3 separate regions of the Homo sapiens genome follow, and regions 1 and 3 are each linked to region 2. Evidence: fine-mapped expression QTL. A gene starts in region 2. Each other region holds a variant in brackets. All regions are shown on one strand. Distances are between the middles of the regions. Region 1 overlaps LOC107986772 (a long non-coding RNA gene). Region 2 holds the start of AHR (aryl hydrocarbon receptor). Region 3 overlaps LINC02888 (long intergenic non-protein coding RNA 2888).

What was found. PIP is the estimated chance that this variant, and not a neighbour inherited with it, causes the effect.
Region 1: its variant is the best candidate, but not a certain one, in a credible set for the expression of AHR in whole blood (INTERVAL, PIP 0.77).
Region 3: its variant is the best candidate, but not a certain one, in a credible set for the expression of AHR in testis (GTEx, PIP 0.72).

Annotation. Positions count from the first base shown.
Region 1 is chr7:17,222,294-17,233,024 of GRCh38, reverse strand. It overlaps LOC107986772 (a long non-coding RNA gene), which reads right to left. Exons shown (of 3, transcript XR_001745107.2): 3 at 4,214-6,291. All of the region lies in intron 6 of LOC101927609 (a long non-coding RNA gene), which reads left to right. Among named protein-coding and RNA genes, the nearest start is that of AHR, 71 kb to the left of the region's middle. The variant A/G (reference allele first, on the strand shown) is at 5,111.
Region 2 is chr7:17,293,306-17,304,036 of GRCh38, reverse strand. It overlaps AHR (aryl hydrocarbon receptor), which reads right to left and starts at 5,385. Exons shown (of 11, transcript NM_001621.5): 1 at 4,708-5,385. The coding sequence starts at 4,772. It overlaps LOC101927609 (a long non-coding RNA gene), which reads left to right and starts at 4,717. Exons shown (of 12, transcript XR_007060234.1): 1 at 4,717-4,977; 2 at 8,777-8,871. RefSeq lists silencers at 4,711-4,760, 4,801-4,910, 4,961-5,110.
Region 3 is chr7:17,400,162-17,410,654 of GRCh38, reverse strand. The region is part of intron 1 of LINC02888 (long intergenic non-protein coding RNA 2888); the gene reads right to left. Among named protein-coding and RNA genes, the nearest start is that of LINC02888, 30 kb to the right of the region's middle. RefSeq lists an enhancer at 4,041-5,240. The variant G/A (reference allele first, on the strand shown) is at 7,080.

The DNA.
Region 1 (10,731 bases), 71 kb after region 2:
CATCATTGTATTTCCAGCATTTTACACAGTCCCTGGCATATGGTAGTTGTTTATAACTTTTTGTTAAAGATCTTCCATTTTGCACCTTATGATAATTGTTAGATAAAAATCTAAAATAATGCATCACTAGAAAATGTAACATAGTAAATAAACATTGCATATGTGTGCCTTATAATGCCATGTAGAAAAGAGTGTGCTCAAAATTCCTTATTGGATAAAGAAGCAAAAGGTCATCGTGACATAAGTCTGATGCACGTAAATTAAAGAGTTATTTGTTCAACAAAGAACAGCAATAACAAAGTCTCCCAAAATCTGATGTCAGGATTAGCTGGTGAAAAGATTAAGATGTGTTTTTTTTTTCTCTCATTGTCCCAATACCTCTCAATGGAACCAACAAATATCTGCTGCAATGTCTGTTTCTTAAAAATTACCTGTTGGGCACCATGTACACTATTCAAGTTGATGGGTAGACTAAAAGCCCAGACTTCACCACTATACAATTCATTCATGTAACCAAAAACCGCTAGTATCACAGAAGCTATTGAAATTTTAAAAAAAATTAGCCTGCTTCTTAGCCAATCACTACTGAAGTTCTGCAACAGGCCTATCAACCAAGACGTATGAGATAAATTGCTCATTCCACCTACTGTTTCTTTGTCAGGGTACTCGCAAAGCTATGGACCCAAGTCTTTGAGAAGCCCTATCACTAGGAATAAAGGATAAGCATGAATTAACAGGGACAGAAGTATACGAGAAATTTTATTTTGAAGCAAGATTTATACTACCCCACTTCTGTAAGATCTGAAGTATCAGCACTATTTGACTTGCTGCAGAGGAAATCAGAACTAGTGTGAGGACCTGTAAACTTATATCAGCAACTTGGACCTTGCCTGGCCAAAGCTGTTAGAGCAGTATGTTGAGACACCTGGAGCTACAGAAGGAGTCACGCTCACTAAAAAGATGCCAGGACATACTGAGAAAGCTAAGGCAGAAATAGCACAATTGAGTCAAGTGCTGGATTAGGGCCAGAAAATGAAGAAAAATCACGCTGAGATATAATTGGGGAATAGAAGGATCTTTGAACAAGCATCGGGAATACTAAGTAGTTTTTGAGTGGTGTGTAGACAGGTAATCTTGGAATAAAATGTTTTGTAAATAATAAAAAACACCCTCTATTTCCTCTATGGGATAAACATTTTCTTCAAAGAGAAGAAAGTAGAGAGCTTATCTGTGCCAGGAATTCTAAGGCCTCAGTGGAGTTACTGCTTGGAATTTCTACCCAATCCCCTGGTAGCAGGCCTCCTGGCCAACTCCATGGAGCCTGGGTTTTCACAAAGCTGGAGCCTTACAGAAAGCACAAGGTAAGACTGAGAAATAGAAGGCTGACTTTAAGAAAAGGAGTACAATACTCTATTGAAAGTTGTCATCTAGATGTTCTTCTACCTGAGTGTTTTCTGGACAACATCCTTGTTCATTTGGCAGTCAAGTCTCTCAAGAACGCTTAGAGGGATGATTGATGACCTGGGCTGGATCCCAATTCTGGAACAAGATGGCATATCCTCGCTTTTCTCTGTTCCTCAGTGGCCCTCTCCAGGTTGCCCAATGACAGTAGGTAGCCCAAGGAAGTACCTTCCACTTCCACAGATGACACCAGAACATTGATTGAGCAGTAAGCCCAACAGCATGCGAAAAATGAAGAACCATTCAACCAGAATAACATTGCAAGAGCTCAGAAAACTAAACTTTCATTGGAACTAAAGCCAATAAAAGTAGGACAGACCTGACAAGCAGAACCTAAACAGGACAACTGCCTGCTAAAACAGAAGGTGTAAATAGGATCAAGTGTCTCCTAACATAAGAACTAAAATGTCCAGGATGTAACAGAAAATCATTCATCAAGAACCAGGCAAGCTACAATCTGAATGAGGAAAGACAATCCACTGGTGCCAATAATAACAAGATAAATTAGATGTTGGAATATCTGACAAAGATTTTAAAGCAGCTGTCATAAAACACACCAAAAATCAATTACAAATCCTCTTAAAACAAATAAAAATATAGAAAATCTGAGCAAAGAAATAAAATGATGGAAAATACTTGGGATAGCTTGCATAGCACCATTTCCAGGCCAACTTCTATGACCCTGGCTGCTTTTCAACTAATCATAACTATTAGACATGTTAGGAACAGTTCTGGATTGGAATACCCCCTGGGACAAACAAGGATATGTAGTGACTCTTAAGTTTCCTTATCTGTACTTCAAATTTCACCCCTCTTCCCTCTTTTCCTAATTTTCCTCAGTAAATTTAACTCTTTAGGAAAGGTCAGTGGTTCACTCAGCTCCTGGACATGATTATAGTATTCTAAGAACTAAAAATAACATGTATTCATGCTCTGTTCAGGGACTACCCAACCCGACCTGACTTGTTGCTGTCAAAATTGGCAGGTACCTACAATACTGATTGGGGTGGGGAGGGTACCCTTTTGTTAAAAGTTCCTGGTTTTACTGTCTCTAAGTCTATACCTAGTTTGAAGATAGATGGTTTTAGTGAGGTCACATATACTAATGGAAACAGAGTAGCAGCTGATGACCAAGATTGCCTTTAGAGTTTAGAAACACTGCCTTGAATTGGGCTTATCCTAAGCCCCAAATTTTAGCCTGCACTAGCCAAGTTGATTTTATTATTAGAACACTTTAAGTTCATATCTGTCATGTAGCAAGCAGTGGAAAGTAACAGCCAGACACCCAAGAATGTTATCAAGGTCTCCAAGCACTGGCAAAGGCATTATGCCCAGAAAGATCCTTGCGATGAGACATTTTCAGCCATTCAAATGTAGTTACAACTGACCAAGGCAAAATGGGGAAATAATAGTACCTGCTTCATCAGGTTGTTATGAGTATTACATGAGACAGCACATTAGTTATAATGATGATGGTCATGGTGATGACTTTTCTGGAAACCAAAGAAGGGATGCTATTCTGCAGGGCTTAGAAGTAGAGGAGCATAACCCCCTAAAAACAGTAAGAGAAGCTAAGACTAAAGGGGTGGGTTAAGACAGAGCCCATAATGCCCAAATGCCAAAAGAGTGGAAAAAAAGCAACAAATCCGTAAGAGAAAGACAAAACAGAGGGATACGCGCTGGATGTCAAGTCAAGAAAGCAGAACCAGAGGGTGAAAACAGCTTAAGATCAAATGGACTGGTGGCTGAGGGGTCTCAAACAATGTCCTTCAATGTTGTCGCTATCTGAAGCTGACTTTTATGATGCAATGTTAAGGAGTATGACCTGCCTTATAGGCCCAAAAGTGGGAAGGCAGTTGAGAGGCCATCACAACAAATAATTATTCAAAACCAGTTTTTGTATTCTAGTTTTGGTGGTGGAAAGCTGAAATGCTTATTTATGGATAATTGAGTTTTAACTATTTTATGTCATTTCATGTAGACATCATGAGATGAGATGTTTCTATTGTATTTTTAGTTTGTTTTCAAATAATGTGTTATGACATAAGATTCAAACTTGAATGTGCCAAAGGTCAGACTTGCTCAATTTGCCCAAAGGAAAGATCATAATGAAAATTCCTAGAGAGGTTTAATACGTCAAATGTAATTACATCTCAGTCAGTTGCTCAACATTTTAAAGCATATTCTTTGTGCAGAGTTCAAAGTAAAGTGCTTTAAATCTACATTTTCTGTAAGAATATTTTATTGGTATAGGTTTTATCTTCGAATAAGAGAAGCCTAATTCTCAAAGATCACAGACACATATGAATCATTTTTGGTTCATGGATTTGTATTTCTGGTCATAAAAATTCACTTCATTACACCCTTATATTTCCATTCTCTGTCTCTTGTCAGAAATATTTTGACACATGACCAATGAAAAATAATCTTTGATAAATGATAAATACAATTGACAACATAATCAAGAGTATATACGCATAAACTAGTCTGTATTACAATTAAACAATTGTGAAATAGAGACATAAATCTAAAGATAAATGAAGAAATCTCTAAATTAGTAAAGAAAACATGGCATATAATGATCAAAAGAATTACTTGTTCTCATGTTATGAGGAAAATAAAATCTCCAACTATAAATATTGTTTTATATTATTTCAAGATCAAATAGTTTAAAATATTTAGTGTCTGCGGTAGATGAGTTAGTATACCGTTTCATATTACTTAGACCAAAGACTTAAGCAAACATCCATATTTGAAATGAATGAGAAAATATTTGCTTTATTTTATATATAATAGTTTTGAATTAGAAGTTTTTTTTCTTTGAAACTGTATATGCTAAAATGTCCGAGACTGTATTGGAATTAATGTTTGTAATTAAACTCTTTACATTTAAGCTACTTGTTTGATTCAAAGTTCAATGAGAGGAAACTTCTTATTCATCTGTCTGTATAAAAGGACTATTCTTTGATAAACAATTTTGTCTCTTATCCCCACCTATAATCATAAGTGTTTACTAGGAAAGATAAAGTCTCTAAGGTTTTTGTTTAGAAATGACTTTTAAAGAGTGCAAATTGCACCATGCCTAGTACATTACATGCCAACAGTAAAAAGGTAGAAGAGCCATTTATGTTGATGGTTTAGTTTATAAGCCTTTTTTCCCTCTATTCTTTCATGGTTTTACTATTTTCATTTCCCCACTATGCAGCCTACTAGTTGCTGAAGAATACCAATTACCAAATGTTGTCTCATTTAGTGGATTTTCCAGTTTCAAAGGAAAATTGCATTTTAGCGTAATTTCAAGATGACTCCTGAGGAGATTCATTTCTGTTATTTGTAGACAGCTGTTTGTTAAATTTGAAATCTTAGAGATTACAGCTTTTCCTTTTTTATCAGTAAATATTTTCTGTGATGTCTTCCATATGGTAAACATTCAATAAAAATTGTTTCATGAATGAATTGTATAGTTCTAAAAATACAAGTATACTAACGTTCTTAACATGATTTTCAACCAGACATACATAATTCTTTACAAATCCACTTCTAGACAACATTTATCTTCAGCTTGAATGGTTATTGCTATAAACAGAGTGAACTTCATGATCTTGCAAAACTTAGCTCAAATCCTGACTCAACCTCTACTAACCATGTG[A/G]CATTGGGCAAGTTACTTAACTCTGAATGTGAGAAGTTGTTTTTAAGAATTAGACACAAATACATAAGAAACAAATTAAGCATAATAGCTGTTTAATAAATGATTGCATTATTGTTATGAATAAAAACTTCTATTTTTTTTTTTTTTTTTTGAGACGGAGTCTCGCTCTGTCGCCCAGGCTGCTGGTTACTTGAGGCTCTTTGGAAGAGGGTTTCTTAAACCACTTCATTCTCACGTATATTAGTATATCCTTATGCAATATTATCCAGGTATCATACAGTCATGAAAATTAATGGATGGATATGAACAAATTATACTCAATAAAAATAAACATATCAGACAGAGGAAAGCGTATTAGTTTTAAGAACAAAAAGTTTCTTTTTCTGGCTACTTTTTATTAATTTCAAGTTTTCCTCTACCATAGAAAATACAGACAATGTGATATTGCGCTTTTGGGAAGGTATTAAAGCTTCCTTTGAGGCTTACTACAGTTTTCGTGAATGCCTCAGACATTGCTACTACATGCTACCAGGAAAATGACGTCCCTTAGGAATTGCCATTAAATTCATCGGGTAATTCTAAAATAATCATCTTAGAAGATGGTGGAGATAACCTACTAGTTCCTGGAGCAATTGTGGGGACAAGAACAGGAGAAGTAGGGATAATTTAGTATTCCCTTGTCGGACTTGTTTCCGTCATCTCGTTACTCTTGTTGGGACTGTACTGAGGTTATTCCTTGGACAATAGGTGGCCATGTAGGATGCTTCTATTCTCTCTCACCAAAAAATGAAACTAAAGAATTAAAACCTCCTCTGCCAGCCTCGCTCCAACAGTGTTACCTGATTCCTGTCTCTCCTGCAGGCTGCTTGTCTCCTTCACAACAAACCACGTCTGCCTTTCCTCCCTGCAGAAATCCAGTTATCATGTTAGTTCAGTGGACCCATCTTTCTCCTCTCTCTCTTATGTAGCATCTATAGTGTTCAGTTTGGGGAGGAAGCCAGCATCCTCTGTAGTTTATCTTTCTTGTCCAGAGTAGTAAGTCTCAAAATTCTTACCAGGATAATTTATCCCAGAGTCCTGTGCCAATCCATGCAAGAAGTTCTGATAATCTTATTTGAAAGTTGCTGTGAAGAGTTCTGAGTTATACATAATGTCGAACTTCGGGTGAATCATTAATCTTTCTGTTAAAATAAAAACACCATCGACTCTTAGGATATTTAATGTGAATTTTAAAGATGTTTCAAAAAATCAATGTAAATTATTTGAAAAGAAAATAGCCATTTTACTGTTTGATACAACTCTCTTTCTGGGGAAGGAAAATTTTTTTTTAAAAAATCAAGAAACATTCAGTTTACTAATTTGCTGGCATAGTGTTCCTGATATATATATATATATATATATATATATGTGGATATATATGGAGATATACATATATATGGAGATATATATATATGGAAAGGGATATATATTTATCTCCATATATATTTCTCCATATATATATATATCTCTCTCTATATATATATATATATCTCTCCATATATATATATTCGTATATGTATGTATCAGGAGATATATATATATATATATATATATCAGGAGATATACATATATATATATATATCAGGAGATATACATATATATATATATCAGGAGATATACATATATATCAGGAGATATATATATGTGTATCAGGAGATACATGTGTGTGTGTATATATATATATATATATATATATATATATATATATATATATGGTTTTTTTTAAGCAGTTGTCAAAATAGTTTCTGTGAAGCAGCCTACTAGGAATTACTTTGACCTCAGAGTGGCAGAGGTTATGGGGAGAAGCCATGGGTAGTGTTAGAGTAATACTTACAGGAAGAGCTACCTGATAGTGGAATGCATACCATCAGTTCAGTGTATGTGGGCATTGTTGACCACTGTCACTGTTTTGCTTGTGCAAGAACATGGTAACATAAGGCACCTCACCATCATACTGAAGGAATTTACCAATGAGATGATAAAAGCAATGACTGAATGCCGATTTTTTAGCTTCTCTATTTCTTTGTATAATTATTATACTTTCCAGTTTTTGCATTATGTATTCACATGAGTTCAGCTTTCTTTTGGAAAAAGAATAGAGCTGGCTATTACAAATAGTTCTACAATGAACATGGGAGTGGTAATAATCTCTTCAAGATTCTGATTTTAATTCTACTGTCCACAATAGACAAGGCACAGAAGTGACCTAAATGTCCATTTACAGAAATAGATAAAGAAAATGTGGTATATACATATATATGTACCTATACAATGGAATATTATTCAGCCTTGAAAAGGAAGCAAATTGTGCCATTTGTGACAACACAGATGAATGTGGTGGACATTGTGCTAAGTGAAACAAGCCAGGAACAGGACAAATGTTATATGATACCAATTTTATGGCAAATTTAAAATAGTCTCATGGAAGCAGAGAATAGAATGGTGGTTGTCAGGGGATGGTTGGGGGTAGGGAACAAGGAGATGTTAGTCAAAAGGTACAAAGCTCTAGTTTTACAAGATGAGTAAGTACTGGAGAGCTACCATACACCACAGCACTTATAGTTAACAATACTGTATTGTATGCTGAAAATTTGCTAAAATGTTAACTCTTATACTAAGCATTCTTATCACAAAAATAATAATAAGTAAAATGAGAGGAAACCTTTGGAAGTGATGGATATGTTGATGGCATAGAATATGGTAATGGTTTTATGGCTGTATACTTATTCCCAAACTCACCAAGTTGTATACCTTAAATATACACAGCTTTTCATATGTCAACTGCACCTCAATAAAGTGGTTAGGAAAAAATAGAGTTGGCTCAGATGGTTAGATCCAAAGAAGATAAATTTTCTTGTTCTCTTAGCAATGTTAAATAGGCATTCCCAGTGGTATTGGACATTTTACTCAAAACAGAAACAGGAAATATATACAAGACTTAGAGAATGACCACTGTCTGTCATATCTAGTACATATGCAGTCTGATATATGTCCTATAATTCTGTAAGACGTTAAAAGATTGCCAAGCCTTAAGGCCTAGCAGTGGATGACAGGTAGAAGAATACCAAGAAAAGTACCTTGATAACAACTGGATCTCTTTCAAATATACCACATCACATTGGGAGCACATCAGGCAGACAAGACCTTCCACTTTTTCTACTGTGTTTTAAAAATCATTATATTTTACAAGGATTAATATAAAGGATTTCTATATTCAATTAACACAATAATAGGTCTCACTGAAAATACTCATTAAAAAACTCTTGCATAAACATTCATGGTATCTACATTTTCAGACTCTAAAAACTGAGGGTGAATTGAGTACAATTCATTAATACTGATAGACCATAAAATAACTGTATGAGAGCATTCTCATTTGTTTTCACAGTTCCTATTCTGATAGCAGTGGTTTCTAAAGAAAGGCATTCTGTTCAATTCCCACCTATGAGTGAGAATATGCGGTGTTTGGTTTTTTGTTCTTGCGATAGTTTACTGAGAATGATGGTTTCCAATTTCATCCATGTCCCTACAAAGGACATGAACTGATCACATGGTCACAGGAAGGGGAATATCACACTCTGGGGACTGTGGTGGGGTGGGGGGAGGGGGAGGGGTAGCATTGGGAGATATACCTAATGCTAGATGACGAGTTAGTGGGTGCAGCACACCAGCATGGCACATGTATACATATGTAACTAACCTGCACAATGTGCACATGTACCCTAGAACTTAAAGTATAATAAAAAAAAAAAAAAAAGAAAGGCATTCTGCTGCAAAGTCCATAGATTTGCAGAGCTCACATGTCTAAAGGAATTATTGAGGTTAAGTAAAAAAACTAATGATGCTTTGCAAATCAAGTCCAAATGATAAAGTTTAATGCATATATGTATTCACATATATGCACACATAGAATGTATTCAGAGTTATTTTAAAATTATTGCAACCCTATTATGAATATTATTCTGAAACCCATTACAGTATTTTACATATTATGTAAAATCTTCACATAAGGTATTATAAACAATCTTTTAAATACAAACCATGGACATGTTTAATTTTATTTCCTAAGTCATCATGATGGAACATTTGAGTTGTTTTCAAGATGTCATGATTTTATATAATCTTTTGGTCAACTTTTAATAAACAAATATTTGGGAATATATTTCGTGATTTTTGTTAGACAGATCCTTGGCAGTGGAAATGATGAGTGAAAGGTTGAAGGCTTTTGAGATCTTTTGCCAAAATCCCCCTCAGAACAGTTGCATCAAAAGGTAATCTAATCAGCAGTGCATAAGTGCACACTTATAAAGTGTTCCTAATACCTACCTACTGTGTAATATCACCTAGATAATCTCACATGGCACCTCTGTAGAAATAACTTATTTGCTGCTAATCAAAATGCTACTATGATAACATTTGCCAAGGTAAATAATCAAATTAATCATGTAACCTCAAAAACATATGTATGAGAGGAGCCAATTCCTTATAACCATGCAGAATGCCATCAAAACTCTAAGAAATATTTGCAGCTATTATTCTCTGTTTCTCTCAGAGGATAAGCTGTGGATAAATACCGAAAGCTAGTTGCTTCCTAAAGTTGTTTTTCAGATTTGATTACCTAAGACATGCAGATGTCATGTTACGTCATCTTATCAGATTAGCACATGTAATAGATAGAATGTCAAACAAGAGTGAGAATTCAGAGGAAAGAAAAATGATCCCCAGGGCTAGGGTGTAAGTACTGTCTTAGCGAAACTATACTTCTAGATGTGACAGAAGTACCACAAGACCATTTTAAAATCTTAAGACCACCTTCATTCTGTCTGTTGACTCTGAAAATCATAGAACATCAATTACTCTAAAGTGATTTGGCATCAGAGCTGTTCACATTCTTTCTGGGTAGAATAATTTAGTATTTTTCAATCTTTGGTATAACGATACAATGGAAAGAGAATAGAAGAGAAGAAAACCAAATTTTTTTCTATCCCAGCTCCACTACATACGTAACTTGAGGTAGAGGAAGACACTTTTATAACATTAGCTAAATTTCATTGAGCACTCTTTATATTTCAGGCCTTGTGCTAGCATGTGTGTGTATGTGTATCTCATGTAATCCTATAATAACTACACTATAAGCGATATTCTGCCTTCTCCCCCTTCTTGTAAATAGGAACATTGAGGCTGCGAGTTCATATGCCTTTCCCAGAATGACTCAGTCATCAGTGATGGAGACTCATCAAGTGATGGAGACCCATTGTCTGTCATCCCAAGAATCCATAGACTTAACCACCACCCTGTTGTTAAAGTTGCTTTTCTAAAAAATGGGGCACTTAGGAAATAAGACTAGATATTTTCTAAATTTCTCTCAAAGTCTAAAATTCTCTTTCTTAGGACTTCCTACTTTGTTTATAATAAAATGGTATTATTTTTGTATTTATGGAATCCATATGGGCTGAAGGTACTATTTAAACTTCCCAGTTATAATCATACTAATTTTTAAAATCAGCATTAAAATATAACTCATATAAAGCATAGAATTCCTTGGTTTTTTAAATATTCACAGACTTGTGCAACTGTTAACA
Region 2 (10,731 bases):
CGTAAAGGACACCCTAAGTAGAAAATCTGCAAATACAAGTGCTTCTCCTATACATAACCATGATCCCAACATATAACTTTAATTACCAACCACACTTTTGCCTATGAAATTGACAATAATATTTTTTAAGCAAAAATGCAAAGATATAGTCACATCCCCAGATTGATGATGGAATGTAATTAGTAAATTTTTCTTAATTTGATACTATCTCTTGGAGTGTACGATTTGGTTCAACCTTAAAACAACACATACTTTTCTATCCCAAAATTCCCTTACAGGAATTTTTTCCTAAAAAAATAAATTTGCATTAAAATTTACACGTCCCAAGGGTATTCTCTGAAATATTAAAGTATTAAATGGTTGGGAATAAAATTTCCTCCCAAAAGAAAAACAGTTAAAAAAATTATAGAATATTAGTACAACAGAGTATTATGCAGCCTTTAAAAACAATGTTTTAAAGAGGAAGGGAGGTGGGTAGCAAATCAATAAGACAGGAGAAAAGACTCTAAGAGGAAAGGACGTAAAAACACAAGTATGGGGATGAGCAAGTACAAATTATGTATGGGAAATGACAAATAATTTATTTCAGCCATAACACTATCTGAGAAGAAACAGTGAAAATCCCTAGGATATGGCTGTACTGTATGCATCACTGAATCTGTTCACCTGGACAGTACGAACACAAGTCAGTAAGAACACAAGCTTTGAAGCAAAAAGACCTGGGATCCAATATCCAAACTCTTTCTCATTATCTGAGCAACTCTGAATTTGAATCTCAGTTCCCTATCTATAAACTTAAATAATACTACCTTTCTTTAGTACTATTATAAAAATGAAGAAAATGATGTAAAGAACTGGGCAAGCTTGTATCAGAATAAGTGCTAATAAACAGTCATCTTTTGTCATATTAAGCCACTAGCAAAATATCAATTTTAAAAGAAGCATAAAAGTAGAAAGGTACTGTTGTAAAAGATTTGTATGGTATTTATTTCTAAGTAACTGTCTTAATTAAATACATGAGTAAGCACGTACTATGTAAATTTATTCACCAGTGAAGTAGCACATTTCAGCCGTAGCCGTAATTGAGAACATAATCGTATACTGCCTCTTACTGTTTCACGGGCGAATTGATTGTTCTGTGATAATGTAAGCTAAAAGAATAGAATTTACGTTTCTGTTTCATTTGTATCTTTAGCAGTCTTCACAGTTTATATATATATATATATTTTTTTTTTGTTCTGTTTTAGTTGTGAGAGTAGCAGTACAGGTGCTGACTGTCGTGCTTTATTGGTCAAGAAACTTGCCCAGATCTGTAACAGTGAAGAAACTAGACCTCATTTTTTAGTTTAGATCCAGTGCTTTCAATTTATACCTGTTTCCTCTTTTTGCCATTTAATGTTACCTATAACTAAACACTTTCACTTACTTCATTTCATAGTTCTAATAAGCAAGTGTCCATAACTACTATGTATATGCTATCTAAAGCTATTGGAAAGAAAAATGATGGAGAAATAATTGTGTAAATGAAAAGACCCATTCTTTTATTTTAGATGCTATTTTAAAAATGGCACCATAAATTTATAGAAAACATTTAATGAGTATTATGTAAGTAATACAATTCAGTATTACATATATGAAATTCATGACATTTAAAAAGAATAGCAAGACAATGCTTTTATATTATTAATATGTTAATAAAAGTAAAAGTTTTTATCAGTATGCATTTTAAAGAAAGATCAGCTAAGGCTCAGAAGTGACTTCCAGTTCTGACACTTCATAATGGCTTAATCACCACTACAGCTGGTATCATTTTAAAGTGTAGATCCCCTTTTCTCAACACCTATTATTTGCCAACATTCAGTGCTAACTTTCTATGTACAGGTAAGCTGAAATCCATTACAACTTTTTCTTTATGATTAAAACCTTAAAAATACAAAAATATATACAAAATTATCACTAGGGAAAAACATTCTATTTAATTATATAATGGCCTTTTTGACTATCTTCATGAGACAAAATAAATAAACACTTTCATTTCCAAAGAGAATAAAATAAACACAGGATTTGTTCTCTTTTTCTGAGTAGGGTCACTAAGTATGGGGCAACAGTCTAAGCAAAGTTATAGTAGATTCTATAATGAAAGTTATCTTTGATATTTTCTTCTTGAAGGTAGGAACATGAATTGGACGTAAAGTTGCTTCAGAGCCTTTAATTTCCCAACCTTCATTACTCCAAAAAGAAAGGAAATATTTATTGAGAGTCTACTATGTTGGAGATACTTCAGTGGGATTAAATTGAACACATTTAAAATGTATTTCCTACTAATAAAGATAATTTTCAATGTGAGAGCCGCCACTAGGGGGGGTTGATTTTTCTTAATAAATTCAACTCAAGATTGAAAGAGCTTCAGGTTACAATTGTCACCTACTTTACTCCAAAATTTTATGGAATACTTATATTCCATAAAATTTATATTTAATTGGCTGTCTTTTTAAACAGTCCTATAATAATGCTACAGCATATTTTATCTGTAAATAAAATAAAATGGCTCTCATTTAAGAGGTCAAAGTTAAGTAGGTCTGGATAGCATTTTCAGCTCAAAACAAGATCTATTTTCCCCAATGTTGGCATGTTTTGGGGCTCATTAGGCCACAAACTGGTAGTTTAATTTTAAAACTCAAATTTAATACTAGGTTTAATGACTTCATTTCTAAAATAAACTTTGATTAACTGCATTATAAAGTTAACAATTTTTCATTCAGGTAAAAATAATTTATATAAACACTTTCACTTGATAATGAAAATGCCAGCACTAGCCTATTCTTACAGAGCAAGCTGGTAATATTTAAGGCATCTGTATGATTAGAAGCAATATACGGTGCTCAGCAGAGATCTGATAAACATCTATGCTAACAAAATGTGGGTGAATGGAAAAAATACTTTTGTTATATTATAAGAAATTAATACAAGTATATTAAAAACTAAGTAAGTATAATATTAGGATAATCTAATAAAAAGTACATTTTACGCAAAATAACCAAAATCCATAAATGTTAAACTGTGTAATGAATACAAAATTATGGCATTTGTTTTTGTTTACAAAGCCATCCAGGTCCTTTGATAACACCCTAACTGAAACCCAGTATCTTAAAAACACATCAGGGAGATCTTCATGTTTTCTCACCATACACATAAAACCCATGACACCCCTATTATATATGATGCTAAGTGTATTATTATATTAATAAACACATAGAACAGACATTTGGGATGCCTCCCAACTTTAACCATCAATGACAATGTCAAATAAGACAAACATACTTTAATATAAGAAACCATTCTACAAAATTAAAAGTATTAATAACCGATGTCTCAAACTGCCAAGGTAGAAAACTGCTGGTTTGACAATATTCCCTTAAGACACACTGTACCATAAAACTTCCAAATTTTCATCAGTCTATTTATAGATTATTATCCTCTGTTAATGCCAATTCATAAGTATACTTCTGAAGAACTATGATAACTGAAATTCTGAAAGGAAACTAAAATTTTAGAATGAAACTTTAAACCAATAACTGGTTTTAAATGTAAATCTTAAAGTGTTATTTTTCTGGTTCCCATTAGTGATAGTTGGAGTCTAAGCAAAATGCACACTTCTGATTTGGTCTGAGAAGACGTTTAAGAGTTCTTAAAATTGTTTACGAAAACTTGAAACACATGTAGGTAAAGTAACTCAGAGATCTAGAAATAAAAAAATTGGAATAAACACATGAATACAACCACCTCACAACAGGAAATGTTTTGAGCACGGATAGTTTTTTCTGACACACACAAAAAATTGGCCATCTCACACAAATATTCCACCAAAATCAACCGACAACGACAAAAGCAAGTTTGTACTCACTCAACTAGAAGAAAACTTTGAAGGGGAAAAGAATTAGAGGTAGATGTTAAGAATGAAAACCTCTCTCAAATGCAGTTCTAAATCTTTTATTTTACAGACCCTAAAGCCACCCCAAAAGTGATAAGCAAGCTTCCGAAAAAGATGTCTGAAGAATACAAATCCTCCACCGTATCCTGTCCGTTGCATCCACTCCCACCTGCTACCACTTCTATCCACTTTACCGATATGGTCACGATGAGCGCTACAAAATTGCTGCCAAATAAGTAAATATGAGCGCAACACAAAGCCAGTTGGTGGGGACCAAAAAGTACCTTTAGAGGCACTCAGCCCCTTCGTAAAAGTCAGCATGTGTTTAGCTCTTTAAAACATCTCGCCTTACCAAACTCTACGAAGAATGAGAATTAAGACCGTCCTCTAACCTAACCCATGCGGATATGAAAAGTGGAAGGAGATTTCAAGACAGGTTTATACTAACTAATCCATTAGCCCAAGGCAGATCAGAGCTGTCAACAAATCAGGACCAAATCAGAAAGAACAAAGTTGCAAATGTGAGAGGGTGTGTATGCACTGGTGCGGGGGAAGAGGATGGGTGGGAGGACAATTTTTAAAATGCAATCATTGAAAACGGGAGAATCCAAGTCCTCTGTCTCCCAGCCGGCCTCCAAACCTCGATTCCACGGGCAGTGCCGGGAATGGACCTAATCCCAGGATCGCAGGGATTTGGGGGCGGGGTGGGGCTGCCTCCCGCACCCGCGTGCCTGAGCGCCCAGCCCCCGCGATGAGGACGCGCTCGGGACACTCACGTTTTCTGCACCGGCTTCCGCCGCTTGCGACTGGCGTAGGTGATGTTGGCGCTGCTGCTGTTCATGGTGCCCAGCCGACGGCGGCGGCTACTCCCCGGGCACTGGCGGCCGGGTCCCCGGAACCCGGTGTAGGCTGGGACCACTGCGGCGGCCGGCGCCGGGTTCCGCGAAGCCGCGCCCGCTCCACCTGCGTCCTCTCGGGACAGTGGCGTGGGCGCCGCGCCTCAACGCCTCGGCTCACGCAGGCTTCCGCAGCCCGCGCCAGTACAGGTGAGCTGCCTGGGCCTGGCGCAGTGAGGGTGGGCGAGGGGCGGAGACCCGCGAGCAAGGCGGCGCAGGTGCCGTCTACACCGGCGGAGGCGGCGCGGCAATGCCCGCAGGTGAGGCGGCCCGGGCGGAGGAGGAGCCTGGGCCGTCTATTTAGAATCCTGGCCTGGGTCGCTCACGGTGGCGCCGCGCCCCGTGACCGTCGCCGCGGCCCCTTGGGTGAGGGAGGTGCCGCCGCGCTGCTCCCGGGACTTCCTAAATCCAGGGTGCTTCCCGCCTGCGGAGCTCGGGCGCGGGCCACCAGTCCCGGCTGCTCCCAGCTTCCGTTCGGCTACACGGCTGCCCCTGTTCTGAGCTGGCGGTCCGGGGCACGCTCTCGGAACAGAGCGTCGACGGGACTCCCCAGCCACTGCCTCCCGCCGCCGCGCGCACCGGCTGAATAGCAGGAGCACCCCCGACCCCTCACCGGCCCCGCCCCGCCCAGATCCCGCGTAGCCCCGCCCCGTCCTGCTTGCCCCCGCCCATCTGGATTCCATTCCGTCTTCCTTGAGGGCCCCACCCTCATCCCGGCACGTGATGACGTAGGACGTAAGGACGCCCCCCCCCGCCGGTAGCCATCTTCGTGCATAGGCAAACTTATTGTAGCTAGACTGTACAAAGTATATCAAGATATGCCAAATATTGAGCTTAACTTCACCTGTTTGAGAGACGGTGGGTCAGCTAACTTGTGGCTAAGAATTACAATTAACTGGTAGACAACTGGTAGACAACCAATGGGACTGTATATTTTCCTAGTTGGGAAGGCTTCAGAAGGCCAGATTTGAGTTGAGACTTGAAGGCTAGGAGTTTCCTTGACCTTTTTTGGTGTGCGGGGGAAGTCTTTACAATAGACAGGAATATAGATAATAAGGGGACTATTATGTATTGTGTCATGGAGGACCATGTGGAAAAATATTGGGAGTAATTAACAATATTGAATACTGTTGAGAAATTCAAATTAGTTGAGAACTGAAAATGTCATTCTTGTTTTCTCAATGTGTAGTCACTGATGACTTTCGTGAATGCAGTGTTGGGGTAATGGGCCTGCAAATAACATTGAAGTGGGTACAGGATTGAGCTGAAGATAACAAAATGGCATCCTCAAGCAGGCAATTTTTCTTCCAAGTTTAGCTGTGGATGAGAGACACATCAGATTGTATGTAGGGGGAGTGAAGGGTTAAATGAGGGTTTTCTAGTTTTGGTTTAGTTCTTTAATGGGCGATACTGAGCGGCTTAGAGGGGGTAGAGATAAACTATGTAGGGAACCTGAGGGAAGAGTGAAGGAATGATAGATATTAAGATACCGAAAGCAGGAGGGAATGAGTGCCAAAGCATAAATGGGAGATTAGGACTAATAGATTAGATACTAACAGAAACAGCACTTACAGTGCTTTGCTATTCAGAGTACTCCACAGCTTCTTTTGAGAGTTACAGGAAATGCAGACTCTTTGGGTGTCCTTATTAAATCAGAACCCGAAGTTCACAGGAACTCCCAGGTGATTCAAATGTACATAAAGTTGGAGGAGCAGTTCTCTACCATAGCTGGAGGAAAGAAGGACAGTGGGTGAGATATAGTAGGCTACTAAATTTTGGATCAGAAAAATGAAGGAGATGTAACAAAGAGGGTATTCTAGCATGAGCTACAAAAGAACAATTGTGTTTTGTGGTCGATGATCTTTGTTTTAATTTTAGAAGAGCATAAAGTGAAAGTGATCTGGGAAGTGACAACAAGGAAGTAGATGGACATCCACCCTGTATCCTGTGATAAGAGAAAATAATTAGGCAGTATTGGGGAGACCTTTAGGAAAGTGATAGCCTCAGTAAGCCACCTTTCAGTTTAAGGAAAAAGATGGAGCAAATTCCCAAAGAAGACAGTGTACACTGGGAAAGTTTGATGTTTATGAATTAGCAATTGCAGAGGCAGAATCAACCATCTCTATTTTTCCCTTCTCTTTCATTTCTTCATTTATCTGTGCTTACTTATAGCCATTCTATCTAAAACGTGTAAGTGTAAAAGAATAATTTCCTCCTAGCTAGGAACTTTAAGGGTGAAAAATTTATATCAAAACATAATTTATTGATTCTGTAGCTTATAACTCCTCTTCATAAAAGAGATGTACTAAATGCAATGAACCAATCTTAATTTAGTGATTTAAAAAAATCCTACCCTTTTTAAGGTTGTTGGCTATTTGGTGCAGTCATTTTCTACCTTATTTTGACTTTCATACCCTTATTTTTTTATGGTTAAGTTTAGGATTATTTTCATTATCCAGAAGTCATATGCTATATTATGTTACATAGTCTTAGTTAAGTAACAGATCTTTGCATAATTAAGATTAAAATTGAATATCAACAAAATTCCCAGAATTCATTTTATTTTAATAGTGACATGAACTTACCTTAACAGTTTTGCTGGCATGTGAATACAGTATAGTGTAGTGCCATTTTTAAAAAATGAGCTGCCATTATCTAGAAACTTCCTGTATTGGCACTGTGGAACATGGTTCTCAAAGTATGGTTTGTGTCCATCTGCTAAGATTTAAAAACTTTTTTGTGAGCAGTTTTTTTTTTTGTAGTTACGTGATTTTTATCTCATAATAATTAATTTGGCTATAAGAGTCGGTGAACATTTGATTACCTTATCCAAAGAACATCCTTTTAATCAATTGGGTTGAGCTTAGTTTCTGAGGTTTCAGATGCAGCTGTATGTGTATGGGTTTCTTTCTCCTGCGAAATAGTATGAGAAAAATGTTTTAGGAATGCTATTATAAATATCAGCTGTTCTTGAATAAAGGAAAATAATCAAAATGAATGCTAAACCTATTCTATCACAGTTCATTTCACTAAGCAAGATTTTAGCCCCTATAATATACCAGACACTGTGGGTTACAGTAGTGATATCAGACATGTTCTTTCCTCTTAGAGCTTACATTCTAATGAGAGAGACAAGAATTAACCAGATAGTTACACAAATGAATGTATAATTACAACTGGGACAAGTACTGTGAAATGAATACTGTGAGAATGTATAATAGGTGGATTTAACTTGGTAAGGGTAACTTGGTAACCTCCCTGAGGGAGCTTGAGCTGAGTTTTGAGGCATAGGTAGGCATTTTATAGGTAGGCATAGGTAGGCATTTTATAGGTGACCTGGGGAGGAAGGGGAATTTCATGCAGACTGAACATGTATCACTTTTTAATCTCCTCTTCAATTCTGCAGCTCCTTACTTCAGGCCCTCAGAATTGTCTTTTACAGTTTACAACACACATTGTAGCTATATGAAGTATTTTACAGAGGGTAGTCCATGCTTCCTAAACTATGTACTGAGGCACCCCAGGAGCACCACAACAAACTCACAGGGGCACTATCATGGGATATTTTAAATTTTCAAGGCCAACACAGTGACATCAGTTGGACACCGTGCAAACCACTATCTTGAGGTAGTTCAGAACTTCTACACATTAAATTGTACTTCATTCCTTTTGACATCGTATCTTTGTGAGGCTGTGTTTTTGTAAATTGCTGTAATAAAACACAAGGACTATGGGAAAATTACTGTAGAACAGGAATGAGGGTAGCGGTTTCCAAGTTTATTCCTAAGTTTGAGAAGTTATGAAGTGCCCAACAGATGTGCACATCCCATTAAGAATAAAAAATGTTAATGTATATTATTTTTTAAATAGCTACTAAGTTGTTAGGATAGACAAACATAAGTTTGGGTTTAACTGTTTAATAAATGGAACTGTTAGGTGTTTCTTTTAGCTTGCAACACCATGAAAAAATTACTGAGACACTAGGAATGCTGTGAACTGAGAAAGTTTGGGACCTTTGGCATAACTAAATCCTTCATTTAACAGGTGAGAAACTTCAGGCCCAGAGAGATCAAGTGCCCTGCTAATCATAGCCTAGAATCTGGGTCTTGTGACTTCTGCCCCAGTCTAAAATGTATAACTTATCTGACTTTGAACTGTTCTGATTCATTTATTAAAAATAATCAGTTTACACATTGCTTGCTTTTACTCCTAACACTGAAGAACAGACATAGACATCTAAGGGCTGTTTCTAAATGCTTAATGTCTTCTTTACTTGCTTGGATACAACAATGTCATAGAAGCCACAGAGAAGTAATTAATAGATAATGCTAATCTTAATTCTGACAAAGAAACTACAAGATAGGAATAATTTGTTATTAGTCAAAATTATTTTTATTCACTTATGGATAATGCTTTGTTGCAAGAAACATTTAGGTTTTTAACACATGAAAGTACATTATTAAAATGTTAACATGCAGTAAGTTTGGATTTCGATTTCTTTCTTTCCGGACTTTTAATTCTTACGAATTTGAAGTTTGATTATGGGGAAAGTTATAAAAAAGTTTTATGTTTCACATGCTAAGATTCATGTCTAATTTATTAAACATTTTATTAAAATATATATGTATAAATATCATTTTTACTAAAATCCATTTAACTTTGGAGATAAATATATTTGAAAACTACATAATACATACTTTCTGCATTTTAAATCATGATATAGAAGAAACTGAAATTAAGATAAAATACATTTATTTAACAAAGAAAATTATTAACTTGATAAGAACAGCTTAAGGAAATGTAAATTATTGTAAAATGCTGACCTAAAATATATAATTTAGATTTGCTAAACTTTAAAAGGCTATCATTCTTATTCATATTAAGAAACAAAATGTATTCTTTACTGAAAATATTTAACAAATTTAATTAATGTGTGGACAGTGGTTCTCAACATTTGTTGCATATTGTAGTCACTTGAGAACTGTAAAAATTACGGATCCTTGGCTCCACTACAAAAATTTTTATTTAATTTATCTATGTTGTGTCCTGGAATCGGGATTTTACAGGTGATAGAGGTATTGTGGTTATATACCTCTATCACCTGTAGAGGTATATACCTCTAGAATAAAGAGAAGATCCTTATTCTCAGGAAATGCATGCTGCAACATTCATATATATATATGTATATATATATATATATATATACACACATATATATATATACACATATATACATATATATATATACATATATACATATATATATACACACACATACACATATACACAATTATGAAAGGTATACAAACATTTGTGGTATTCTTTCAACTTTGCCATATGTTGAAAAATTGCACAATAAAAACAAAAAATAAGTGCAAAAATAAATAGCCATGTACTTTCAAGTTAAAAAATTGAGAGACAAAATATCTGAAGCCTGATAATTGTTTCCATGGGAGGTCAGGACAGATACATATTAGGCACCCAGCTTTTACGTAAGATAAAGCTTTAGACCTTGCTCTAAATCTTGATATTACAGGAAACAGATGGAAGATAAATTTTAAAAGATTCAAAGTTTCTGCACTTCTCCATTTTGAAAACAAAGTTAGAATCCCAAATCTCCATTGTATGGCCTCCGTGGGCTGAAGAATATGTGTAGTTAGTTGTGCATTACAAGAATTTAGCTGATTTATACTAACCACAAATTATTCATTTTGCTGTATTCACCAGTTATTTATACTAAAATGCTAATAGTTTCTAATACCTTACGAATACCTTTTTGCTTGTTCTTATGCATTTGAAATTTCTCCTTTATCTACTTTCCTGTATATAATCACTGACTTTTCTGAGACTTTATAATGTATCAGTAGACAGGATTTATGTCTATAAGGCTTACATGCTAAAATA
Region 3 (10,493 bases), 110 kb before region 2:
TAGCCTTCTTTGGTTTTTCTATGTAAACAATAATATCTTCTACGAATAATGAGAATTTTGTTTATTCTTTTCTTATTCTTTCTTTTTTTATGTGGTTTCTGCCATCCTTAGTTCAATGTTGAATATGCATGGTAATAGTGGGCATCCTTCTTTTGTTCCTTCCTTTAAAGAAAATGATTTTACCACCTCTCCAATGAATATGATATCTCCTTTGAGAATTTTGTATTTACTCTTTTGCCAGTTATGAGAATTTCCTTCTATTCCACGTTCACTGAGAGTTTCTAATGTGAATGAATATTGACTTTCATCTGCAAAAAGAGATGATTTTATAAGTTGTCATTATTTTGTTAATTTATGTTAATAGTTTTGATGCTAATTAGCCTTTTATTTTTTGGATAAAGTCAATTTAGTAATTTGTGTGTGTGTTTAATGCATTGCTACATTTAGATTGCTAATATTTTGTATTGGATTTTGGAATCAAGATAACAATCATGGCCTCATTAAACAACTTAAAGAGGAACGTGTCTTTTTTTTTTTTATTTTCTGGAAGAGTTTATGTTAAATTGGAATATTTGCTCATTAAATATATTTAGCAGAATTTATTATAAAACTGTGGACTTCAGTTTTATGTGAAAAGATAGTTTAACTTCAATGTTTAACTAATTTCAATGATTCAGGACTGCACAGGTTTTCTAATTCTTTCATAAGTCAATTTTTGCAAAATATAACTTTCTAGAAATGTGCCCATTTTATCCAAGTTGTCATTATAATTAAAAGTTGTCTATAACATTCTGCTATCATTCTAGTCCTTCTGAAGTTGTTTTCTTGTGATTTGCCGATATTGTATCTATCCCTTTTTTCTTAATTTGTCAGAGACATCTAGATTTTAACTGCTTCAAAGAACAGAGGTAGTTTCATTAATTTTCCATATTCTTATGTTTTGTTAATTTTTGCTTTTATTTTTGTTATCTTCTTTTTCTGCTTTCTGGATTTATTTTTTCAATATTATTCTAAATCATTGATGATTACTTTATTAATTTTCATCCCTTCTGAAAGTCTATAAACTTCTCTCTGCACTATTTTATCTGTATTCCATGTTTTGATATATAGAATTTTTCATAATTGTTTAGTTCTAACGTTTTCTAATATCCATTTGAATGCTATTTTGATGTATTATTTAGAAGTTTGTTTTTAAATTTCTAAATATATGAGCTTTTTCATAATGTTTTCATCACTGGTTTTAAACTTTATTGTGATTAGAGAACGTGGCCCACATATTATGAAATATTTCTTTCATATTGGTTAACACTAGTTTTATAGTTTATTATGTGGCTCTTATATACTTATATGGTCAGTGTCACATGTGCTTAATTCTGTTGTCTCTAATTGTTTCATGCTTTATTCTACGTACAGCAATTAGTTCAAGTATGTTGTGGTCTTAACATTTTTTATGTATTACTGTTTTTTTGTGAGAAGATACGTTTTTGATTTTGTCTATTTAACTTCTGAATTGCCAAGCACTGTGTCTCAAAAGCACACACGATGATTCAGGAATCTCTGCTAATATTTACTATATACAATTTTGAATTGTGAAATTTGGTAGATGGTAATTTAGAGAGTTACTCTGTCATTATGTAGTCATCCTCTAACTCGAATTATGCTTTTTTACTTGAAGGTCTATTTTATCTGATAATAATATAGCCACAATATATTTTTTTACCCTTTTATTTAAAAATGTTTTGTGTCTTTAAGATTGCTGATGTATTTTGATTAATTCCTACCATCTTATTTTGTACTTTCCTTTCCAGCTTAATACAGTTTATAATTAATCTGTGTCTATTTGCACTTCCTACAAGGACTTTAGCATGCTTTAACTCTGAGCATGACCTTTCTGACTTAGTCTTGTTTTTGTTTCTCCAATTTCTCTGCGGTGAGCACGCCCTAAAGTGACCTCCTATGAGTCACGCCCTTGCACAATTTTCTCTGCTTAAGTGCGGACAGAACCTGTGCCCTGCTTCTAACCAATGAAATACGGCAAAGACAATGGGACATCACTCCCTTAAGTTATTTTATATGATAGAAGTGATAGGATGCCACTTTAATAATTACTTATCATATACATCCTGGAGAGAAATCCTTTTGGTGGCTTGAAGAAAATAGCTGTCATACTGTGAGAAGGTCTATGGGATGGGGTGGCCTGCCTGCAGCTGACAGCTAGCAAAAAGTCTGGGCCCTCAGTGTAGAGCTTAAAGGAAATTAATTCTGCTAACAACCTGAATGAGCTTGGAAGTGGATTCTTCCTCAGTGGCCATCCAGGTGAGAACACAGGCTGTGAGACCAGATCAGGGAACCCAATTAAACTGTGCCCAGACTCATGACACATGGAAACTTAAGGTCAATAAATTTGTATTGTTTTAAGCCACTAAATTTGTGGTACTTTGTTACACAGCAATAAAAAATTAATATACTCTAAAATTAGACATTATTATTGAGTATTATATTTAACATTTGTTTAGATTTACTCACATTTACCACTTTATTTTCGCTCACCCTTTCTTCTTGAACTCAGTTTTTCTGAAAGCATTTTCCTTATTTCTGAAATATATATTTTAGAAGCTCCTGTAGGGAAAAGATGTTTGTGAGGACTCTCTTGATCTTTTTTAATCTAAAAATGACATACAATTTTACAATTCTAGATATGTAGCTATAAGCATTTTTTCATGGATTTAATATGATCTCACAGTTTACTGGTTTCCATTGTTGTTGTTTAGAATTCAGCTATCACTGTAAATATTTCTTTGGAGGCAATGTTTTTCTCTCTGGATTTTTAAAAGTTCTTTTTCACTGGTGTTCTACAGTTCAGTGAAGACTGGGATTTGTTTTGCTTTCTAAATCTGAAGATTCATGTCATCTGGAATTCTGGAATTGCTCAGACATTTTCCCTCTGAAATTATCTCTCTTTCATTTCTCTGATATTTCTTTGTGGAATTCTGATTTGGATATATGTTGTATCTTACAAATATTTTTTATGTCTCTCTACTGCTTTTATACTCCCTCTGTTTCTCTGTGTTCTGTTAGAGCCAACTACTTCAGCTTTATAGTCTAGGTTTGTCATTCTATCTTCAGTCATGTCTAATAGGCTAAGCAGTATACCTATTGAATTTTTAATTTTAAGTACTGTAATTTTCATTTCTGAATGTCCTATTTTTAGTTTTTATTAGAACTGCCTAGTCATCTTTATAGTCACTTCTTCCTCATTCATGTATGTGACTTTCTTTTCCAACTTTATTCTTTTTCTTTAACTTTAAATACCAGTTTTGTAGTATAAATGTAACTAGTTCATTATCTAGGGCTGATTCTCTTGTTTATTGTTTCTACTGAAATTGACTCCTATTTCTTCTTTCATTTTGTAATTTTAGATTCTGGGATAATGTTGGGACTTTATAAATGGAAGTTCTTTGAGGTTGACAGTTGATTCATCTAGAGAAAATTATTTGCTTCTGTCAGGCAGTTAAGGAAGCTTCAAATCTAGGGTGGCAGGAGTCTTTTTCAGACAATGCAGTCGGTGAGATAGGGAATCCTGTATTAGTCAGAATTGTACAGAGATTAATAGGATGGATGGGTGGATGGATGGATAGATATATAAGAGAGATTTATTAGGAGAATTGGCTTACACAATTATGAAATCTGAGAAGGTCATCTGCAAGACGGAGAACCGGAAAAGCTGATGGTATGACTCTCAGCACAAGGTCAAAAGCCTGAGAACCCAGGAACTGCTGGTGCAAGTGCCTGAGTCCAATGGCTGGAGAACCTGGAGTTCTAATGTCCAAGAGCAGGAGAAGAAGGGTATCTCAGCTTGAAGGAGGAGAACAAATTTGCTTTTCCTTTGCATTTTCATTCTATTCTAGTCCTCAGCTGATGGGATGGTGCCCATCCACACTGAAGGCAGATTTTCCTTACTCAGTCCACTGATTCAAATGCCGATTTCTTCCAGAAAACCCTCACAGATGCACCCAGAAATAATGCTTTACCAGCTATCTAAGTATCCCTCAATCCAGTCAAATTAACACACAAAATTAACCATCACAGACCCTAACCTAGGGCCATTTGAGGACTAGCTCCGACTTATAAATTCTCACAAGATGCTCAAAAAATTCACCAGTTTTATTTGTTTCTTCATTCAGGGCAGGTTGTTTTTAATTTTTATTTTTTTCCTAATTTGCAGTTTCACTGAAGATGTAATTCATTATGGGTTCCAGAATTTGAATCTAACTCTCCCATTGTGCCGACCTGAGTTGATCTGTGTCACAACTGAAGCCCCAGGCCCCTGGAATTCATAGATGATTTCACTGCTTACAATTCTCTGAATTGGTCCTTCCCAGAACATTTAGCCTCTGATAACTCCAATGGTTTCCCTTACTCTTTCCAACACAGGCATGCATTTAAATGTGTTTTTCATTTTGTATCTACTACTTTTAGGTGCTTTGTAGCAGGATAGATTTTCAGGATATTTACTCTGCCAATACTGTTGGAAAAGGAAGTCTCTGTCTACTCTTCACCTTCCTGTAACCCCGTTTTGCCCCTAGCATTTTACAGATTCTATTCCTGCTAAGGTCACCAGTGACATCATAATTCCTAAATAAATACTCATCAGACCTTTTCTCACTCGGTAGCTTTCGAAACCTTCGTCCACTCTTTCCATGAATCACCCTTCTCCCTTGTATTATCTCATAATATTACACAGGCATGCATACACACACACACGTGCGCGCACACACACACCACACAAACCTTGGCATTTGCCGTTATGAGCTCTTAGGATATTATTTTCACACTGCCCTTCTTTCTAAAAAGGTCTACTAAGAAACATTAAAACAAAGAAATTTTCCTAATCCTCTATCCAATGAGATCCTGAACATACATCTTAATACCGCTGTCGCTTATTGCAAGAACCATTTGTCTCTCAAGTCTGCTCTGCCATTAATCTATTTTTTCATTAAAATTTATTTTTATTTTTTATTTTTAGATATGGGGTCCCACTGTGTTGCCCAGGCTTGCCTCAAACTCCTGGACTCAAGCAATCCTTCTGCCTTGGCCTCCCAAAGTGCTGTGACTATAGGTGTGAGCCACTTCACCCAGCCTTCCCTTTTTATCTTGAATAATATTCCTTGCCTTAAATTCTATTTTGTTTCATATTGGTTGCATGTTATACATTTTCCATTCTTTTACTTTTCTATATTCTTCTATATAAGGAAAATCTCTTGAAAGTAGCATATTTTTTTTTTTTCCAATCTGGCGATCTTTAGCTTTTAATTAGAGTACTTACTTTGCTGACATTTCATGTAATTACAAATATATTTGGGTTTAAATCTATCATCTTACTACCTTTTTTTAAATTATACTTTAAGTTCTGGGGTACATGTGCAGAATGTGCAGGTTACATAGGTATACATAGGTATACACGTGCCATGGTGATTTGCTGCACCCATCTACCCTAATACCTATGTCATCTACATTAGGTATTTCTCTAATGCTATCCCTCCCCTAGCCCCCAGCCCCCGACAGGCCCCGGTGTGTGATGTTCCCCTCCCTGTGTCCATGTATTCTCATTGTTCAGCTCCCACTTATAAGTGAGAACATGCGGTGTTTAGTTTTCTGTTCTTGTTTTAGTTTGCTGAGAACGATGGTTTCCAGCTTCATCCGTGTCCTTGCAAAGGACATGAATCCAGCAGCACACCAAAAAGCGTATCCACCACAATCAAGTCAGCTTCATCCCTGGGATGCAAGGCTGGCTCAACATATGCACATCAATAAACGTAATCCATCACATAAACAGAACCAATGACAAAAGCCACATGATTATCCCAATAGATGCAGAAAAGGCCTTCAATAAAATTCAACACCCCTTCATGGTAAAAACTCTCAATAAACTAGGTATTGATAGAACATATCTCAAAATAAGAGCTGTTTATGACAAACCCGCAGCCAGTATCATACTGAATGGGCAAAAACTGGAAGCATTCCCTTTGAAAACTGGCACAAGAAAAGGATGCCCTCTCTCACCACTCCTAGTCAACATAGTATTGGAAGTTCTGGCCGGGGCAATCAGCCAAGGGAAAGAAATAAAGGGTATTCAAGTAGGAAGAGAGGAAGTCAAATTGTCTCTGTTTGCAGATGACATTAATCTATTTTTAAAAAGGGGTGCCAGCCCCTCTTAGAAGTTTGCCTGTTGCTTAAAATCCTATCCATTACTGATTTTATTACACTCCTGCTTCAAATTTGATTCATTTGCTTATAATTACTGGCGAATAAATGGCTAGGTGCCACTTTCAACGGCAAGCTTACAGTTCTGTAGAAGCTATAAAAGTCAACTTCAGAACAGCTGCCGTAGGATGGCTTGGGTTGGGAGGTTCTAGAGCTATAAGTCACTTCACCACCAGAATGCCAGATCAAGGGTCTGCTTTTTAGTTGCACCCAACAGACAGGAAGCAGGCTTATCAGTGACTCTTTAGCAATGGCTAATAAAGAAGATAGCTTAGATGTGGAATCTCAAACAGCTGAATTCACAGTAGCAGAGAGTAGAATGGTGGTTATTAGGGGAAGGGGCTGGGAGAGAAGAAAGGGAAGGTGCTGGTCAAAGTGTATAAAATTTTAGGTATGTAGGGTGAATACATTCTAGAGATCTAATGTATAGCATAGTGACCATAGTTAGTAATACTATATTATATACATGAAATTTGATAGGAGAGTATATCTCAAGTATTCTCACCACACACATACACAAGGTAACTACCTGAGAAGATGGGTATGTTAATTAGCTAACGATAGCAGTCATTTAACTCTCTATATTAAAACATCCTGCTGTATACCTTAAATATATTCACTTTTTTTGAAACAGGGTCTCACTGTGCCACCCAGGCTAGAGTGCAATGGCACGATCAAAGCTCACTGTAGCCGTTATTTCCCAGGCTCAAGAGATTTCCCACCTCAGCGCTCCCAAGTAGCTGGGACCAAAGGCGTGCGCCACCACATTTGAGTTTTTTTTTTTTTTTTTTTTTTTTAAGTGGAGATGAAGTCTC[G/A]CTATGTTGCCCAGACTGGTCTCAAATTCCTGAGTTGAAGTGATCTTCTTGCCTCAGTCTCCCAAAGTGTTGGGATTACAGGCATGAGCCACCACACTTGGCCTGAAAATATTTTGAAAACTTTAAAAATAAAAAAAAAGAAGATAGCTTGGGGCCACCCTGAATATCGTTATGAGACTCACCTCTGTATGTTTTATAGTAAAATATTATTCATTTTACTCATAAATCATGTTCAAGTGATATTTGAGTGGAAATGTTTTTCTTTCAGCAAATTCAGAGGTAATATCAAGGAGCATGATCTGGAGAAGGCAGCGTGGGTCAAATACTAAAATCTGGACTTACTGTCTCAGCAGTTGGCAAGCAACCAAGGTGAAGCTAGTGCTGTGGAAAGTCCCCAAAGGACCAGAGCAGATATACTCAGTGTCCTTTACCTCTACAGCTCCGCATTTTCAAACTCCCCCACTTGTCCTTCAGTCCATCCTCTAAATACTGTTCTTTCTCAGCTTGTGTTCTCACTCATCATCTCTTCTCATGCCACCTGACCTCCTTATGTGAGGTTCTTGGCATCAGTCATCAGATTTACCCTGACAACTCCCACGGATACATGATTAGCTCTGATATCCACCGGGGTTTAAAGAACTGTTGCAAATTCTTCCTGATTACCTCCTCTTAAAGGCACCTCAAATTCAATGTGACTGAAACGGAGCTCTTCCCCTGTATATCAGCTGTCAGTTCTCATTGCTTCAGCACCTAGTAAATTCTCTCACCAGCTCACTCCTTTCAGACTACTCCATAAAATCAAGAAAAGCCTAAAATGGCCAAAAACTAACCTATCCTGCATAATCATCGCTTGTAATTTTGCCCACAACTTCAGTAGTTTGACGTAAAAGATGTTCCATTCTTTACCACTGAGTAAAGAAGTTAAAAATGTTCCGTAATTTCGAATTCCTCTTTGTTCTAAGACTTTACTCTCACCTCCGGGTTCACAGCTAAGCTCCCCCATGACTGATACCGCTGAAAGTCTTGTTTCAACAAAACATTCATGTATATGTAAAAAATAAATCATCTGACAAATTGAGAATTGCTCAATTTGAAAAACAGATTCAGTGATAAAGACAGAGGTCAATATTAAACCTATGAGTAAGGTAAAGAAATGGGCGGGAAGAAAAATAACCCCAAATCGTTGACTTCCCAGAACCCAGAGGCTAATAGGACTCTCACTTCCTGCTTGAGGTGAAAGCAAGCAAAGGCACCTCTGTTCCTATCTTGTCTTGGTCAAAAGATAAATATGAATTATTATTCTTTTCTTTTTTCATCAGTAAAGAACTTTCCATCACCCTTTTGGCAACTTTCTGCACCAGCCACTTCCCCCTCATAACTCCAGTCAACCGTTCTCACATCTGAGAAAAATAGGTGGAGGATATTTCCAGGAGCCTCTGTTGCTGAGGTTGCCCACAGTCAGGTAAAAGTGGGAGAAATTTCTGAACCACCAAAAACCTGTTCCTGAGAGACAGAAGTAGAAAAAACTTACACATATTTTTAAAAAAGAGAAGTTGAGGTGTAGGGGGATGGTGACTCAATAAAACTTCCTCCCATGATAAAATAAAGTAAAATAAAATAAAGTGAAAGTGTCTGCCACTACATTCTCAGAAGCCAAGCGTAGTCTTTTTATAGCCACCTCAGGGAGTATCTTCAGGATCTCCAAGCATTTAGATATTCCCAACTTCCACATATTTAGCACCTGGGGTGACAGGAAGGGTGTGTTCAACTCCATTAGCAGTATCCTTTGGAAAGGAAGCTGGGTGCACTCTTTCAGAACTGCTTAACATTTCCCTTTTAAAAAGATAGATCGGTAGAATTTAGTGAATTTTCCATATAGCTTAATTTCAATTCCATGTAAGAGCAAAATAACAAAATGGTCATATTTCTTTTATATTTGCTTTCTTCTTTTCTGAGCAGTTGGTGAGAGAGAGGTTGGTTTCTGGGAAGGTGATAATTTGGAGTCTTATTTTTTTTCTGCCCATTTCATATTATAGATTTAATATTGGCTCTGGATCATTGAATGTATTCTTCAAACTGAATGATGCTAGTGAGATGACTTCATTTATACATACATTGATACTTTATTTAAAGGCTCATGTTTTGTTAAGTTCTGTCTTAGGAGAAAATGACCCATGCTTTAAATAGTAGTACGTATGCTTCAGGAAAAAACATATGGTCATCACAATCTCACCATCTACTCTACCTGCTGAGATGGATGTTGGTTTAGGCATCCAGGTTCAAGCTCTGATTTCTATGTTTCTCAAATTTTGTTGTGTAGATGTTACATAATAGATGAAAGGGAGAAAAAGACTTCAAATTAGTCCACTGTGACTTGATTGCTTTGGACTGGAAAGGGCAGAGGGTCAGTAAATAAACAGAAGAGCTGCTTCTGTGCAAAGAGAAAGAGGACAGAAGCCAATGTGGGCTGCACTAAGAGTGAGCTTGAGTCAAACTGAGCAAAGGGAAGGCAACTCCTTTTCTGGTGAGACAATTATAGGAGTCTCAGGGAAAGAAGATTTTAGGAAGTATTTCTCTGCATCAGAAGTAGAATGTTCCTCTAGAATTTTTCAGGACACCTCATTAGAGATTTAAATTGCTTTCAGTTGCTGTTTGTGGGTATTGTACTGTCTCTTCGATTGCTGTAGGATACTGAGGTGGGCTCTAAAGGAGTAGCAAAAGCTCTGCCTGTTTATGGCTCAGTCCCATCGCAGTGGGATTACATTCTCCTTAAGAACTCAAGACACTTGAAAGTCACGTCAACATTTTAGGCCCTGCCTGTACTGAGTTAAATAATTTATTTCAACATAATTTGTTACTTTCGTTGTTATTATACTCGTATTTATTATTAAGTGATTATAATGTAGAAGGAATTGTGCTAAGTGTTATGCATGAGGTAATTTGATTAATCCTTCTACAATCTGAGGCTGGTGCTATTTTTATCCCCATTTAAAGACTGAGGACACTGAGACACAGATTTGACAGTCTGGCCAGTCCTACAGCAAATACGTGCCTATGCCAGGGTTCAAATGGAAGATGCCTGACCTCTAAGTCTAAGATTTTAGGCTTTGACTCAAAGGATCTGCTCAGCTTATGTGCAGAACTCCTAAAAATGAAACCATAGAGACAATTTTGAATTTAGAGTTATAAAACTCACACTTAGGTTTTTAAAAGCACAGTCATGAATAATATATCCTAAAATCCTGTCTTTAAATGGACTGGACTAGTTTTTCACAGGGAAAGTGATATTACTGTCCTCTGGGGGAAAAGTGATACTTTGATCTCATCACTAGAACTTCCTCCTAAAAGGATATGTCCAGAAAGGAATTAGAAGTTGAAAATGTTTCCTTTTACCTTAAGACTATTCCATACACC